3 linked regions of the Homo sapiens genome follow. The protein of the gene in region 1 interacts with the protein of each later gene in a pairwise test. Each region holds a gene or a part of one and is shown on either strand. Other genes may lie near its edges.

Region 1 (3,649 bases):
GTATACCACTGTTGTGCATGCGTGTGTCTGTGTAGTGTGCATACGTGCCTGTGTGTCTTTGTGCATGCGTGTGTGTGTGCATCTGTGTGTGTCTTAGTCCTTTTCAGCACACATGCTGAAGTAGGTTCCAATGAAATGAAATGAGGAAGTGCTTAACAGGGAAGCTGTCGCCTCAGCAGGGAGAGCAGCTCTCTCCCTCCTCCGCACAGAGGATGCCGGCTCCGGGGTAGAGAGTCCTCGTGAAATCCAATGGGCTTCTCTGCTGGAGTGAGTTCACCAGTCTCCCCACTGAGAAGTGTGTTTAAATTATTCAGTGAGCTTCTTTGATCCTATCTGTTGAACTATGTTTTGTTTTGTTTTGCTCTTTGCAGAGGGAAGTGTTTGTAGATGCTGGGCCACCTTCCAAAGCAATAAAAGGCCCATCCTAGAGCATCTGATGTGCCCAGCATGGTCTAGATTCTAATGGCCTGGTTTATTGCCACAAACAAAAAGAGAAAAGCTACATGGGAGGCAGGCTGCTGCCAGTTCTGCAGCTCTGGGAGTCACGGAAAGGCAGTAGTGCTACCCTGCTCACCTGCACTCAGCTACTTCCTCCCCTCCTTCCCACTAACAGGTTCAAAACACATTTCCTTTCTCAGGAAGTTCAAAGGCACAGATGGATGTTTGGTGACCTTTGCCAATATCTGAATTCAGGAAATTCAGAATGCTTAAAACATCACTATTGTTGGAGCAGGGTCTAACCCTGCCACATTCTCCAGGTCCTCAGCAAACCTTCCCATTGGTTCCTCCTCGGGGTTTGAGCTGGCTCTGGGCACCAAACAGCCCCAGACCTCAGCCAGAAGCAGCTCTTCACCAGTGCCTCCTGTTAATGGGGTTCTGAACAAATCTCTTTTTCTTATTTTTTCAGAAGAACATGAGCTGCCTGTGGACATGGAAACCATCAACCTGGACAGAGATGCAGAGGTAATGCCGCCTGCTCAGCCCAGCCTTGGGCGTGGTGATGGACCACCCTGTCAGGTTATCTTGTATGAGATTAGTAAGTTATTTCCCTAGAGAGGTGGCCTAAGCCTCCCTTGGTTGAGTCAGAGTCCCGTGTTCATGTTTTTCTTACCAGTGATTGTTATCCCCATGTCTATTCGACCCTTGAGGATTGTGTGGCAGATGAGATGCCTTTGACTCATACATTGTCTGGGTCTGATGATTACATTATACATGAGGGTCCCAATGGCCCCAGGCTGTGTATGACTGGCCACTGGGCCTCCTGAGCCCACAGCGTGTCTCTGATGGTGATGGGATGGGGTGCATATCCTCAGAACCTGAGCTTATGTTTTGTGCATACAGGATCTAAGGAATGAGAAAAAGATGTCATGTACCAATCATTTTAAGGGCCAGTTTTACATAAAACTTAGTCATCACTAAGCCAAAGAGCCCCCGCAGCACACCTTGTCACTGACATCTGTCTGCTGCAGACCCACCTGGCACTGCCTCCCCCACTGCTGCCCACTTCCAGGCCGCCTCTTCTAGGACGACACAGGTCTCCAGCCACTTTGCTATAGCTGAGTATAGATTTCTGCTTTGTTTCAGGATGTTGATTTGAATCACTATCGCATAGGGAAGATTGAAGGATTTGAGGTACTGAAGAAAGTGAAGGTGAGAGGGACTCTTATGAGGGGACTATGACGCTCACCCATAGGATGTGGATAAGTCCAGAATCGAGCAGTCAGTCCTGAGTTGTGGTCCTTGTCCCAGCCTGTGGGCGGCGTGGCTGCCTCCACCTTGTAGCAGGCCTTTCTTTACTGGGAGCACAGCAGGTGTGAGACAGCAGTCGAGGGACTTGAGGCACAGCCCTGGGGCTGGCTCTCCTGAGCCCAGGCAGCCAGTGACCTGTGACTCTGGCCTGCCTCGGTTTCTGTGCCTGTGTTCAATTAGGCACTCGCTGACTTTTACAGTCCTCCGTGCCTCTCATTGGAATTTGTCAAAATTGAGCCCACCAAAGGTTCTTATGTTCTGCCAGGAAGTGGCAGACACCCACACCCCAGGCCAACGCCTCCCTCCCCAACTGGCCTGCTTGGTGGGGAGCCTGCCTCCTGCCTCCCTTTGGGTTCCCGCCCTTCCTCAGGTGTGTTAAGGAATTATAGCTTAGTGCCCTTGCCCACCTGCCTCTCAAAGGTCAGCACCTTTCTAGGAAACAGCAGGAGAATGAAGACATGTCCTTCTACCAGAAAGGCCTTTCTTGTGTCCTCCAGTATCAGCTGAGGCCTTCTCGTGGCCTCCCCCTTGCCTGTGTCAATTGTCCCTTTTCCCATCCCCCAGACTCTCTGCCTCCGCCAAAATTTAATTAAATGCATTGAGAATCTGGAGGAGCTACAGAGTCTTCGAGAGCTGGATCTTTACGACAACCAGATCAAGAAGATTGAGAATCTGGAGGCGCTAACAGAGCTGGAGTGAGTCATGAGACCCACAGGAGAACAGCATGGTGGGAAGGCCACTGGGTGGGGGGTGTCCAGTCTCCAGAGCCAACCTCCTGCTGGCTCTTAGCCCTTGAGAGGCTGCCTCTGCCACAGGGTCCTGCCCTGCATCTGAATCCCAAGTCTCTGCCTCCTGTTTTCAGGGCTCCAGGAGGCCTCATCGGCTTCATGCATGTCTTTGGCTTCCTGAACAATCCTGACTTCCAAAGTAAATCTTTGATGGGAAGGCTGCAGTGGGGACTTCTGGAAAGCCTCCATTCAGGGATGATACTGAGATCGGTAGAGAGGAAAGTTAATCCAGAATTGCCTCTTGCCTTTTGAATACTCTTTTTTTTAATTACAAAAAAAAGTGACATTTCTAATTTAAGGAGTCAGGTCCTAGGCCAGGTGCAGTGGTGCATACCTGTAATCTCAGTGCTTTGGGAGGCCAAATTGGGAGGATCACTTGAGCCTAGAAGTTCGAGATAGCCTGGGCAACATAACAAGACCCTGTCTACAAAAATTAAAATTAAAATTAAAAAAGAAGGAGCCAGGTCCTAGTTATAACTTTACCTGGATTTCTGCCCTTTGTCGCTCATTCATTTTTGCTTGTTTTGTTTCTGTTTCTAATTCAATACTTCTCAGGCCCCTTCTGTGTGCAGAGCCTGGTGTGAGGTCCTGTCATGGGCACAAGTGTGAACAAAACATAGTTTCTGCCTCAAATACCATACTGGGAGCCAGGGCATCAGGAGCCTGTAGGCTGCCTCTGGCTTGCTCCGGGCTCCTGGGCAGCCTCCAAATCCCTCATGACAGCATCAGTGTGAGCCAGGCGGCAGCAGGGGCACAGTCAGAACCCCCCACCCTCTCCCACCCGGTAGTGACTGCCGTCCCCTGATGGGGACGCCACCTTTAGTGGTTAAATTGTGAGTTCTATGCAACCTATGCTCGTGAAATTTTTTTAAAAAACTGTTTTGGTTGTTCTCAGGATTCTAGATATTTCTTTTAATCTGCTGAGAAACATCGAAGGGGTTGACAAGTTGACACGACTGAAAAAACTCTTCTTGGTCAACAATAAAATCAGTAAAATTGAGAACTTAAGCAACTTACATCAACTACAGATGCTAGAGCTGGGATCTAACCGCATCCGGGTAGGTGCAGACAGCCCTGACTAGTATATTCAGGGAGAGGCAGCTAGCGGGCTG
Region 2 (3,649 bases), on another chromosome or scaffold:
TAAAAATACAAAAAATTAGCCGGGTGGCGGGCGCCTGTAGTCCCAGCTGCTTGGGAGGCTGAGGCAGGAGAATGGCATGAACCCAGGAGGCGGAGCTTGCAGTGAGCGCCACTGCACTCCAGTCTGGGTGACAGAGCAAGACTACGTCTCAAAAAAAAATAAAAATAGTTGGATGTAGCTGGTGGTTACATGGACAGCACAGATCTAGATGATCTTTGCCCACTCTAAAATCTAAGCTGTAATTTAATAACTGGTTAGACTCAGTTTAATAATTGTCCTTTCTTAATGTACAAATTGGAGAGAGAGTATGTTGACTTAGTTTTTCTAATATGCCCAGATATTATTTCAGTATGTATTATAAAACAGTGCTGATTTTCTAATTGATACATCTGTGTTCAATAAAGTAGATAATCTAAGTTGTAAGCAAGTCAGTTTCTTTCCATCTTAACAGGTATTTTCACTTGAATTTTTAAAAAGTAGCTATTAAGTTTTCCTTAGTTATCCTGTGGAAAGCATTGGCAGGATAGTTTTTGCCTCTGGCCTAGTCCCTCTAGGCTTGTTGGCACTTGTTGATTACTTCCAGATTGATCTGCTGTTTATGTTAATTCCAGGTACCGAAACAGTGGTTCTTAACCTCCTACCTTTTTTTGTTTTGTTGTTGTCGTTGTTTTGAGACGGAGTTTTGCTCTTATTGTTCAGGTTGGAGTGCAATGGTGTGATCTTCGCTCACTGCAGCCTCCGCCTCCTGGGTTCAAGTGATTCTCCTGCTGCAGCCTCCCAAGTAGCTGGGATTACAGGCATGCACCACCACGCCCAGCTAATTTTATGTTTTTAGTAGAGATGGGGTTTCAACCATGTTGGCCAGGCTGGTCTTGAACTCCTGACCTCAAGTGATCCACCCGTCTCGGCCTCCCAAAGTGCAGGGATTACAGGCGTGAGCCACCGTGCCTGGCCTTAACCTCCCACCTTATGCAGTGGGAAGATTCTAACCCTATAGTCACAGGCCTATGTCCAAATCTTGGCATTTACTGTGTGTGTAAAGAGCATCAGTGCTCTTGTTTGTAAAATGACATTTACAAGACTGTAGTTTGAGATGAGAGAAATAATTTGTCATTTAGAAAATGCCTGTCATGGCTGGGCGCGATGGCTCATGCCTGTAATCTCAGCACTTTGGGAGGCCGAGGCAGGCGGATCACAAAGTCAGGAGTTCTAGACTAGCCTGGCCAACATGATGAAAACCCGTCTTTACTAAAATACAAAAAATTAGCTGAGTATGGTGGTGCATACCTGTACTCCCAGCTACTCTGAAGGCCCAGGCAGGAGAATCGCTTGAACCCAGGAGGCGGAGGTTGCAGTGAGCCGAGATCACACCATTGCACTCCAGCCTGGGCGACAGAGCAATACTCTGTCTTGAAAAAAGAAAATGCCTGTCACAGCCGGGCGCGGTGGCTAATGCCTGTAATCCCAGGACTTTGGGAGGCCGAGGCGGGCGGATCACAAGGTCAGGAGTTCAAGACCAGCCTGGCCAGCGTGGTGAAACCCCATCTCTACTAAAAATACGAAAAAACTGGCCATGGTAGCGTATGCCTGTAATCCCAGCTACTCGGGAGGCTGAGACAGAAAAATTGCTTGAACCCAGCAGGCGGAGCTTGCAGTGAGCCGAGATCGTGCCACTGTACTCCAGGCTGGGTGACAGAGCGAGACTCCCTCTCAAAAAAAAAAAAAAAAAAAGAAAATGCCTGTCACATAATAGGTCCTTAGTAGATGTAAGTTACCTACCCTCCCCCTCCTGCTTGGATTTTATAGCCCTCTGTAATTGAGTTTTATGCTTAAGATTCCAATCAGGCTTAATACATATTCTGAGTCTTCATCTCTACCCGTTACTGTAATTTCATGCCTTGCTTTGTTCATGTTGTATCCCATGTAGATTGTGCCATTTGTGCTCTGGATGTCTTCTCTTGACTTTTTTTTTAATCTTAATTTTTTTTTTTTTTTTTATAGGCGGGGTCTCCCTGTGTTGCCCAGGCTGGGCTCAAGCAATCATCCTGACTCGGCCTCAAAAAGTGCTGGGATTACAGGCATGAGCCACTCTGCTCAGCCTGTTGATTTCTCTTTATTTATTTATTTATTTATTTATTTATTTACTGTTTTTTGAGATGGAGTCTCACTCTGTTGGCCAGGTTGGAGTGCAGTGGCACGATCTTGGCTCACTGCAGCCTCTGCGTCCCAGATTCAGGTGATTCTTCTGCCTCAGCCTCTTGAGTAGTTGGGACTGCAGGTGCCCACCACCACGCCCGGCTAATTTTTGTATTTTTTTTTTTTTTTTTTTTTTTTGAGACGGAGTCTCGCTCTGTTGCCCAGGCGGAGTGCAGTGGTGCGATCTCAGCTCACTGCAAGCTCTGCCTCCCAGGTTCACGCCATTCTTCTGCCTCAGCTTTCCGAGTAGCTGGGACTACAGGCGCCTGCCACCACGCCCGGCTAATTTTTTGTATTTTTAGTAGAGACAGGGTTTCACCGTGTTAGCCAGGATGGTCTCGATCTCCTGACCTTGTGATCCGCCCGCCTCGGCCTCCCAAAGTGCTGGGATTACAGGTGTGAACCACCGCGCCCGGCAATTTTTGTATTTTTAGTAGAGACGGATTCGTCTCTGTGTTGACCAGGCTGGTCTTGAACTACTGACCTCAAGTGATTCATCTGCCTTGGCCTCCCAAAGTGCTGGGATTACAGGAGTGAGCCATCGCACCCTGCCAGCCTGTTGACTTCTTAAGGACTTACCTCGTTCTTGCCTACATCATGAATTTTTCCCTTTCTGGATTATCTTTATTAATATGCAGATGTGCTTTAGGGCTGTACTGTCCAGTATGGTAGCTACTAATCAATAGTGCTTTCTGCAATGAAATGTGTGGCTGTTAAAAGAAAAATTTAAAAAATTTAGGTCCTCAGTGATGCTAGTCATATTTCAGTTGTTCAGTAGCCATATATGGTGCTAATGGCTGCTCTATTGGACAGTGCAGATATAGAACATCCCTATCATTGCAGACAACACTATTGGACAGCACTAAGTGTGGCTTCCTTGTTTATAAGCCCTCTCGCCATTCCACATTATTCTCTAGCTACAGCCTCATTTCTCTGATTCTCTTCCAAGCCAGTTTTCAAAAGTTGTCTTTTTGTGCTCTCTCCACTTCCCTTTGCTTCTCAGCCTACTACAGATTGGCCTCCATTCTTACCACTAAAACTACTCTAGTCAAGGTTGCCAGTGGTTTCTATTTACTAAATTAGTCTTACAGGCTCTTGTAGGAGCATTCAATATAGTTGACCACTGTTTTCGGCCTATTCATCTACTTCTCATTTTATGAGACATATGTTCTTGTTTTCCTTCTACTTTACACCTTGTTATACTGTATGCTTTTTTTTGTTTCTGAGACGGAGTCTCGCTGTCGTCCAGGTTGGAGTGCAGTGGCGCAATATTGGCTCACTGCAACCTCCATCTACTGGGTTCAAGTGATTATCCTGCCTCAGCCTCCCCAGTAGCTGGGATTACAGGCGCACACCACCACGCCTGGCTAATTTTTGTATTTTTAGTAGAGATGGGGTTTCACCATGTTGGTCAGGCTGGTCTCGGAACTCCTGACCTCAGCCTCCTTATTAC
Region 3 (3,649 bases), on another chromosome or scaffold:
AAATGATTCCTTTTTTTTTTTTTTTTTTTTTGGTGACAGTCTCACTCTGTCGCCCAGGCTGGAGTGCAGTGGCGCGATCTTGGCTCACTGCAAGCTCTGCCCCTCCAGGTTTAAGCAATTCTCTGCCTCAGCCTCTGGAGTAGCTGGGATTACAGGTGCGTGCCACCATGCCCGGCTAATTTTTTGTATTTTTAGTAGAGACGTGGTTTCACCATCTTGGCCAGGCTGGTCTTGAACTCCTGACCTTGTGATCCACACGCCTTGGCCTCCCAAAGTGGCCCTGTGGCAACCATTGTGCTATAGCCTGGTATTGTTAATTAGATTACCTTATTTCACTGATTTGAAGACCTACATTTTCCACATGTTAACGTCTCTGGAGTTGGTATGTTACAAGTTAATTAGCTGTGAGTTCTCTTTCTGAGCAATAGACAAAACACTGACGTGTCCTTAAAACATTGGTGTCTTAGATCCAATGACACATGGGCAGTTTCTCACGTAATTCGGGCGCTCGCCAGACACTGGTTCACTACAGTGGCCGGAGAACCTCAGGAGGTTCTACCAAGTGGGAGTGAGAGTATCTGGTCTTCTCCGTGTTCCCCAGCGGACTCACGCTGCTGCAGCTGAGTAGGCTTGGATCGTGTTCTCCCGTCCCTTTCCATCTCCATCGAGGATTAGCCATACCGAGCGTCCATTGCTGATTCCATTAAAGCCTACAGGACTGCCAAGTCTCTCGCTTCCTTCCTCCACATTTCTGAACAATTTTCAGAAAGGTCATGTACTTTCTATTCACACAAACCACCCACCCCTCCACCCCTGCACACACTGATGCATACTTTCTCCCACGCCCCCAAATGCCAGGCCTGCCAGCACCAGCCGTGAGCGGCGCTGGAGCGCAGGGAGCAAGAGTCTGCGAGAAGCTGAGAAGGGGGCGTCTCTCACTCAGCACAGCCTCATCGCGGAGCCACTGCAACACACACAACAGCGAACGCAGGACTTAACTCTTCCATGTCTGAGAAATGAACTGCTCATGAGAAATTTCACAAGAATACGTTAAGAAGCCTGTTTCAAAAGACCTAATTTTGATTTGATTTTGTGAAGGAGTTTCCAAAATTAATGTTTCGGTATGAAAAGCTTCTACAGTGATCCAACAGTATTTAACCCAACAAGGCCTTTACAAACACCCTGTGCATGATGTAAGCATTCACTCCTCATGTATATATGTGTCCATGTCACATAATAGTTCACAAAGTACCCACACAGACTCATCTCAAAGTCCTGGGCAGCAGAAATGGACAAAGAATGGTTCCAAGCTCAGGCCACAGCTTGAATACCAAATTATGCTATGAAAAGGCCAAGTGTTTTTGTGGTAAAAGCACCCACATTCCTTAGAAGCAAAAAGGAAGCTCAGAAAGGGAGACTCACAACCCCAGGAAGAGGGCTCGGAGCAGGGGAGCAGCAGACCTTTCTCTCCAAAAAGCTTCCAAGGCCCCAATGCCCCCACCACCTCCAACCTTCCGGATGACCCACTTCTCTGAGACCAGCTCCACTCCTGGCCCCCACTTCTCCCACCGGAGTTTTCATTGAAGGTTCTCCATGTCGTCATCCTAAAGAGCTCCTCATTCATTCTTAAAGGGGCTAATAATCATTGTTGGCACTTCCAATGTGCTAGGGCAGCAGCTGGGTGTATGCAATGGGTATAGGTGGTACCCCCATGGACCTTTTTATTTTAGTGGCTATGTATTTATTTTAACATCCTTTAGATAAATTACACAGATAGCAGCACCTATGATCTCAGATATAATTGCTCAGGACATGTCGAAGTTTAAAAAATTGATTTTAAGCTTACTTTCTTTTTTTTTTTTTAAACAGGTCTTGCTGTGTCACCCAGCCTGGAGTGCAGTGAGGGGATCATAGCCTCACTACAACCTCAAACTTCTGGGCTCAGGCAATCACCCCATTAAGTCTCCTAAGTACTACAGGCACATACCACCATGCCTCACTAATTTTTTTAAAGACTGAATCTCACTATGTTGCCCGAGCTGATCTGGAACTCCTGGCCTCAAGTGATCCTCCTGCCTCAGCCTCCCAAAGGGCTGGGATTCCAGGCATGAGCCACCATGCCTAGCCTGATTTTCTTTTTTATAATTAAGTAACAGTACAGGCAAAATCAAACTCTTGATTCCCCCTGCCCCAGGGTGCCCCTCTTCCAGGGCTCCCTCACCCCGTAAATGGCACCACTGTTGTTTAAACCAAAACCTTAAGAGTCCTTTTTGACTCTTCTTCCTCTGTCACACACCTCACATTCAATCCATCAGCAAATCACATGAGCTCTTCCTCCAAAACACAACTGGAATCTGATACTTCCCACCATTCTTCTGCCATCCCCATGGCCAAGACACCTTCTCGCACCTGGATGACTCTAGGAGTCTCTTAGGAGGTCCCAGGCTTCCACTCTCACCACTCAAACTCAAAAGAGGGATTTTTCGGCCGGGCACGGTGGCTCACGCCTGTAATCCCAGCACTTTGGGAGGCCGAGGCTGGCAGATCACGAGGTCAGGAGATCGAGACCATCCTGGCTAACACGGTGAAACCCCGTCTCTACTAAAAAAAAAAATACAAAAAGTTAGCTGGGTGTGGTGGTGGGTGCCTGTAGTCCCAGCTACTTGGGAGGCTGAGGCAGGAGAATGGCGTGAACCTGGGAGGCGGAGCTTGCAGTGAGCTGAGATTGCGCCACTGCACTCCAGCCTGGGCAACAGAGCGAGACTCCGTCTCAAAAAAAAAAAAAAAAGAGGGATTTTTCTCCAATCAAAAGTCACATCACATCAGGTCCCTACTCAATCTGCTCCCCATGAAAGCTTCACATCACATGAAGAATGGAATCCAGAGGCCACATCAGGACCTGTGAAGCCCAGCATGGCCCCCGGCTCCCTCAGACCTCAGCTACTCCCAAGCTCCCCCAAGGCACTCCACCCAGCTGCACCAGCACCCCTGAGGCTCCTGAAACAGCAGCCTTTGCATCTCCTGCTCCCTTGGGCAGGAATGCTGCCCCCATTTCCCCGTTTTCATCTCATCAAATGTGGAGAAGTCTTCCCTTACCACCCTGTCCAAAATGGCACCCCCAACATTCTGTGTGTGAATCTAGACTGTTCCTCATAGCACCACCTGATGCTGTAGTTTGGATATTACAAAATCACAGATGATCTGTATCTGTTCGGTGCTCACTGTCTGTCCCCTTTACTAGACCATCAGCTCCACAAAGGCGGTGTCTCCTGCACCTGCAGGGTGCCTAGCACATAGTGAGTGCTCAGGGACATTTAAGGGAATGAACAGCATTCACTCACGGCAGCACTGAAGGTAGAAGTTTCTGGTTAGCGGGCAACCAAGCCAGGCTAGTAGTGGAATGTGTCAGTTCCTTTAACACCAACAATACTCCCCAGAGTCCTCTTGGTTTGGAGAAACTAAGGCTCAGGGACATAAAGTGATTTGCCCAAAGCCAGTATGAGACTAACACTGTTTTATCCGGCTGAAAGGTCTGGGTCCTTTTGAACACATCAAGCTCTCCTTAGAACCTCTTTGTGGCCGGGCACAGTGGCTCACACCTGTAATCCTAGCACTTTGGGAGGCCCAGGCAGGCGGATTGCTTGAGGCC

Evidence for each region.
Region 2: the proteins of PPP1R7 (region 1) and MAPK6 interact in a two-hybrid assay, tested with the Homo sapiens proteins (one large-scale study listed by BioGRID and IntAct).
Region 3: the proteins of PPP1R7 (region 1) and TAB1 interact in a two-hybrid assay, tested with the Homo sapiens proteins (one large-scale study listed by BioGRID and IntAct).

Annotation. Positions count from the first base shown.
Region 1 is NC_000002.12:241,156,900-241,160,548, forward strand, and holds part of PPP1R7 (protein phosphatase 1 regulatory subunit 7), read left to right. Parts: intron 1-907; coding exon 908-963; intron 964-1,584; coding exon 1,585-1,650; intron 1,651-2,313; coding exon 2,314-2,444; intron 2,445-3,432; coding exon 3,433-3,595; intron 3,596-3,649. UniProt on the Homo sapiens protein: Regulatory subunit of protein phosphatase 1.
Region 2 is NC_000015.10:52,025,638-52,029,286, forward strand, and holds part of MAPK6 (mitogen-activated protein kinase 6), read left to right. Parts: intron 1-2,001; exon of another isoform or gene 2,002-2,236; intron 2,237-3,649. UniProt on the Homo sapiens protein: Atypical MAPK protein. Phosphorylates microtubule-associated protein 2 (MAP2) and MAPKAPK5.
Region 3 is NC_000022.11:39,402,780-39,406,428, reverse strand, and holds part of TAB1 (TGF-beta-activated kinase 1 and MAP3K7-binding protein 1), read right to left. Parts: intron 1-3,649. UniProt on the Homo sapiens protein: Key adapter protein that plays an essential role in JNK and NF-kappa-B activation and proinflammatory cytokines production in response to stimulation with TLRs and cytokines.